2 separate regions of the Homo sapiens genome follow, and region 1 is linked to region 2. Evidence: fine-mapped expression QTL. A gene starts in region 2. The other region holds a variant in brackets. All regions are shown on one strand. Distances are from middle to middle. Region 1 overlaps LINC01150 (long intergenic non-protein coding RNA 1150). Region 2 holds the start of LINC01219 (long intergenic non-protein coding RNA 1219).

Region 1 (2,904 bases), 89 kb before region 2:
TACCCGGATGTATCAGAATTTTAGGAACCCCATACAATTTTGGAGCATATATTAATGACGTATTCACAAACAATATCTCAAATAAGGTTAAACATCATTTCTTATTTGGCAGTGCTTCCCATGTAATTTAATTTATCAAATACTTCTGTCTCTCTCTTTTTTGGATACTATAGGGGCCCTTAGTAGCTCTCTCCACTGGGAAAGGCTGTTATCGTCTTTGTTTTAAACTATAAACTAAGTTTCTCCCAAAGTTAGTTCAGCCTACTCCCAGGAATAAGCAAGGACAGGAATAAGCAAGGAGGTTAGAAGCAAGATGGAAGGGCCAGGCACGGTGGCTTACGCCTGTAACCCCATCACTTTGGGAGGCCGAGGTGAGCAGATCACAAGGTCAGGAGTTCCAGACCAGCCTGGCCAATATGGTGAAACCTCATCTCTACTAAAAAAAATACAAAATTAGTCGGGCGTTGTGGCAGATGCCTGTAATCCCAGTTACTTGGGAGGCTGAGGCAGGAGAATCGCTTGAACCCAGGAGGCAGAGGTTGTGGTGAGCCAAGTTTACGCCATTGCACTCCAGCCTGGGCGACAAGAGCAAAACACCACCTCTAAAAAAAAAAAAAGGCAAGATGGAGTCAATTAAGTTAGATGTCTCTCACCGTCTCAGTCAAAGAGACAATGCAAAGGTGGTTTCAGCTTTTTCCTAAATATTATCAGATACATGTCATACAGAGAGACATATAGTCATAACAGACACAGATAGAAACAGATCTTACAGATTTCAGAAAGAATTTTCATTTGCCAGCTTTCAAATAGTTTTCTTTTCCCCCTTTAGACTATCAATCTTCTAATTACTTGTTTTATCATCCTAAGCAATCGTTAGCTAGGGAACAATTTGCCTTCAAAAAAGATAACTCTTAGGTGAAACAAGGCAGAAAATGTATATATGAAAAGCTATTTAAGCTGAGACTTTCAGCTTAAATACTGTACCATCATCATTTGCTCAACCAAGAAAAAAGCAAGGCCCAGTGAAGACAACATGGCCAGGAAAAACACGTTAAACAAAGGTAAGACTTGTTACGTAAATTTAAAACAAAGGGATGTCCCTCCCAGACGTTGCAAATGGAAATGTCTTGTGGAGATGTAAATTTCTTTCACAAAATGGTTTCAAGGTAGCCGTTGAATGTCAGAAAGGTGCATTTTAGTTATTAGGCTGGTTGAAAAGTAATTGCAAAAACCACAATTATGGCCGGGCGCGGTGGCTCACGCCTGTAATCCCAGCACTTTGGGAGGCCGAGGCGGGTGGATCATGAGGTCAGGAGATCGAGACCATCCTGGCTAACATGGTGAGATCCCGTCTCTACTAAAAATACAAAAAGTTAGCCGGGCGTGGTGGCGGGCGCCTGTAGTCC[C/T]AGCTACTCGGGAGGCTGAGGCAGGAGAATGGTCTGAACCCGGGAGGCGGAGCTTGCAGTGAGCAGAGATCGCGCCACTGCACTCCAGCCTGGGCGACAGAGTGAGACTCTATCTCAAAAAAAAAAAAAAAACACACAATTACTTTCACACCAACCTGTGGATAGGTGGTCCTTCTAATGTGGCTACTGCTTCTTAGCTGAAATTACTGAGTACAGGGTGGGACCCATTAAGGAATAAGGCAAAGAAAGGCTTCCCTCGGCCTGGGCTCAGCGTGGGTGGATCTGAAGTAAAGCCTGCTGGATCTGAGAGACCTTTTAGACACACTTCATCTAGGATAGCTTTCTGTATGGGATAGTAACCAGGCCAAAAGCTCAGCAGATTCATTTTTTCTTATCAATTGGTCACTTAAGCTTTTTCTTTGTCTTAATTAATTTATATTTATGATCTTATTTTGTCTTTATCTTATTTGACAGGGTGTTGCTCTGTCACCCAGGCTGGAGTGCAGTGGTGCCATCATAGCTCACTGCAATTGTTACAGGAGAGGGGTCCTGATCCAGACCCCAAGAGAGGGTTCTTGGATTTGGATCCTGTGCAAGAAAGAATTCAGGGTGAGTCCACGGCGCAAAGCAAAAACAAGTTTACTAAGAAAGTAAAGGAATAAAGAATGGCTACTCCATAGACCGAGCAGCCCCGAGAGCTGCTGGTTGCCCATTTTTTGGTTATTTCTTGATGAGATGCTAAACCAGGGGTGGATTACTCATGCCCCCCACCCCTGCTTTTTAGGCCATACAGGGTAACTTCCTGACGTTGCCACGGCATCTGTAAACTGTCATGGTGCTGGTGGGAGTGTAGCAGTGAGGACGACCAGAGGTCACTCTCGTCACCATCTTGGTTTTGGTGCATTTTAGCCGGCTTCTTTACTGCAACCTGTTTTATCAGCAAGGTTTTTATGACCTGTATCTTGTGCCGACCTCCTGTCTCATCCAGTGACTTAGAATGCCTGACCATGTGGGAATGCAGCCCAGTAGGACTCAGTCTCATTTTACCCAGCCCCTGTTCAAGATGGAGTCGCTCTGGTTCACACGCCTCAGACACAGCCTCTGCCTCCCGCCTCAGCCTCCTAAGCAGCTGGGACTACAGGTGAGTGCTACCGTGCCTGGCTAATTTTTTTTTTTCCGTAGAGATAGTGGGGAGCTGTGGAGCGGGGGGTGGGGGGCGGGTGTCTCACTGTATCGCCCAGGCTGGTCTCAAACTCCAGGGCTTAAGCAATCTTCCCACCTTGGCCTCTCAAAGTGCTGGAATTACAGGCATGGGCCACCTTGCCAGGCCTCATTTGCCTTTTGTGCAGACACTTTTAAAAGAGGGAGTAAAAATACTGAAATCATTTTAGAAGCTTCTTCACATCAATTGGCATCCCTGATGAGGCTAATTAGGAGCCCTTGTTTTTAGGTGCACTTCTTAAAGTGCAGTGGTGTTCACTTGGAACATCCCACCGTA
Region 2 (2,904 bases):
CCACGTTTCTCTCTAGAGGGAAGAGGAGGAGGACGGCAGGCCTGCTGGCCCCACACTTACTGGTTGGGGACGCTCAGAGGGGGCAGCCGCCATGCCGGGAAGTTAGGGTGGGCAGAGGAGCAGCGGTGCCAGGACCCCCAGGCCATGCTGCCACCCCGGACCCTGAACAGTGGGCTAGTGTGTGGGCCTGGGGAGTGAGGGCCCAGGCCGGGCTGGGTCTCGCTCCATAAACCCTGGCTGGCCGGAGCTGCAGACATCACTGTTGACACAGGGGTGATGTCACTGCCGGCCAATGGGGAGACCCTCGGGGGCCCTACGTGTGCCTCTCTGTGCTCCCAGGGCCCCCGCCACGCACGCCGCCTGCTCTGAATGCTGCCTGCATAAACCGGTTTTTCTAAATGTCTTTGGGGCCCTGCTTGCCCCCTGGGCCCCATCTCCTGCTCATCCCACCCCACCCTTGGGCCCAGCCTATGAGCCAAGCGGGAGTGGGGAGTGGCGGAGAGCCCTGGGCCTGCCCGCTCCCACAGGCATGTGGGCCCCAGAGCCCTGACCCCTGCACCTTCACCTCGCCAGCCTCTCTCCCATCTGCCACGACCCCAGCTGCCACCATGGCTCCCCACAGTCACCCCTGGGCCGTCTCTTCCTCCTGTCGGGAGAATGTTCCTCCTGGGAGAGCCTGAGGCCCCCTCTCTGCTCCTTGCTCCCCCGTCTGTCTCCCCTGCCCTGCCTTGCAGCCCTGCCCTGGGTCCATATGCTCAGAGCTGGCTACATATCCTGTGGCTGCCCATGACACATAGCTCCCCCAGGCAGGGCCGGACCCCGGGCACCTCTTTGCCTCCAGGGCCGGCCCCACTCTGTTGGAGGTCAGCCGGTTCCGAGGCCTCCAAGCCGCCTTTCTACTTCTCGATTCCAGGGCCTGGTCTCCACTCCCTCTGGGCTTTGGGGTGCATGCTGCAGTGCAGCCTCCCCGCGCCCCGGCCTCCATGCACCCTGCTCGTGCTGCCTCAGAGGCTTGGCATCTCCCCCATCTTCCAGCCAGGCAGCCAGTTTTCTGCAACGTGGGGCCCACGGTCAGCGTCCCCCACAGCCCTGCCAGCCCTTCTCCCCGGGGGTCCGCCCTGCACCCCCTTCCCAGGAGCTTGCTCTGCACCCACTGCTGGGCCTCCTGGCCTAGGGGCTTGGCACGTGCCTGTGAGCAGAGGCGCTGGGCAGGAGGAGGAGGAGGAGCCTGCAGTGCCTGGCGCCCGTGTGTGTTTACTGGTCCGGCCCCAGCCCCGCGCCGCTCCCCGCGGACCCGGCCTCCCGCCTGTGTCCAGCCAGGTGTTGGGTGATGGAGCGGGGCTCCCTAAGGACAAGGAGCACAGTGTCTGCTTTCTTTGCAAGCACAGTGCTGACAAGGAACAGAATACCCACAGCGACTGCTTCCAGGAAACGGCTGCAGGGCGGGCGGGAGCCTCTGCGAGAGCAGCCCCTTCCCAGCAAGCCGGCCTGCAGGTGGGCTTCCAGGAAGGGGCCCCCGCTGGCTTCCCTCAGCCCTGGAAGGGGGCCAACGGTGTCACCAGGAGCAGGCCAGGGAGCGGGGTAGAGGGGGGAGAAAGAGAAAGGAGAGGCGCGGAGGAGGGAAGGAGGGACGGGGCGCAGGCCTATGCTATGCCTAGTGTGGTTACCACAGCCTTAAGGGAGAGCAAGGCTGACCACAGCTCCTTCTCGAACCTTCCAATCCCCCTTTTGAGAAGTCACAAGATCTCCACTCAGGTCTTTGGCTCTCTGGGGCTTGTCAGGCATCACACACACACACACACACACACACACACACACACACACCCGTGCACACCCATCTGAAAACACAAGCAAGCTGGGCCACTGGGGGAGACCATTCCCTGAGACCCAGCCGGGGTCCAGGTTGAGGGGCTGACCTCCTGGCCCCCATGTTGGGAGGGCCGAGGAGGGCCCCCGCCCGGACCCACTGCGCCCTTGGCTCTGAGTGCTCAGATCCCACCCCCATCTCTAGAGAGGAGGAAATCATTTATCTTCCTGGGAGCTCGGGGTCGGGGAGAGGGGGCTGCCCTCCTTGAGTCCCCGACTGTTTTCTTTGAGACTTCCCAGGGTGCATTGTAGTCAGACCCAAAACATCGCTTTGTCCCTGTTGAAGGGACTTCACTTCCTTCGTAGAGTTGGGATTTTCTGTCTCCATTCGGTGGTATACCAAGTGCCTGCCTCCCACACCCAGCTGCCCCTAATCCCTGCCTGAAAACGTGCTCCTGGGTCACGGAATTCATGCTGAGACACAGCCACACACAGCCAGGCTCAGGGGTCCACCCTCCAGGGAACACCACCCCGCTACAGGGCCACGATCACACACACACCCCGCGGAGCATCTCCGGGCCGGACAGGACCCACGCCCTCCACAGCCCGGAAAGGCGGGTTAACTGGTCAGCATGCAGAGACCCACCAAGTGGAGACCCCGCTCCCAGGCACAGACGCACAGCTGTGGATGCACGTCCTCGGTGACAAGGTAGCTGAGGTCGCGTGCCCCGGGTGTGTACGGCCCACAGAGCCACAGGGGACTCGCCAGGAGATGCGTGCACCGAGGGTCCAGCGTGGCCACAGCAGCAGCACGCGCCTCAAGTCCTCTTCTCTAACTGGATGACTTGGTCTTCACTCAACCTAAACGTGCCGCAGAAACTTGGGTGGGTGGAGGGTCTGGGTGTGAAGACCTCGGTGCCTAACAGGGTCTGGGACGTGGCCAGAAGCCAGGGCACCCTCAGGGTCTCCCTGAACGGTGGAAGTTCCTCCCTCCCCAGATTTCCTGGCACCTTTGCAGGCAGCCACAACCCTCACCCCGGCCCCGCCACCCCCATGTTGGGGTTTGGGAGTGAAATTCCAGCCCGTTTGCTTCTCCGC

Evidence for each region. PIP is the estimated chance that this variant, and not a neighbour inherited with it, causes the effect.
Region 1: its variant is fine-mapped to the expression of LINC01219 in prefrontal cortex (CommonMind, PIP 0.95).

Annotation. Positions count from the first base shown.
Region 1 is chr11:1,900,710-1,903,613 of GRCh38, forward strand. LINC01150 (long intergenic non-protein coding RNA 1150) reads left to right here. Exons shown (of 4, transcript NR_120534.1): 2 at 1,881-2,015; 3 at 2,395-2,547. It also overlaps a transcript of PRR33 not described here. Among named protein-coding and RNA genes, the nearest start is that of LINC01150, 5.4 kb to the left of the region's middle. The variant C/T (reference allele first, on the strand shown) is at 1,407.
Region 2 is chr11:1,989,766-1,992,669 of GRCh38, forward strand. It overlaps LINC01219 (long intergenic non-protein coding RNA 1219), which reads left to right and starts at 1,331. Exons shown (of 3, transcript NR_126400.1): 1 at 1,331-1,494; 2 at 2,173-2,515. It overlaps MRPL23-AS1 (MRPL23 antisense RNA 1), which reads right to left and starts at 155. Exons shown (of 4, transcript NR_024471.1): 1 at 61-155. It also overlaps a transcript of MRPL23 not described here. RefSeq lists enhancers at 1-2,044, 1-2,044.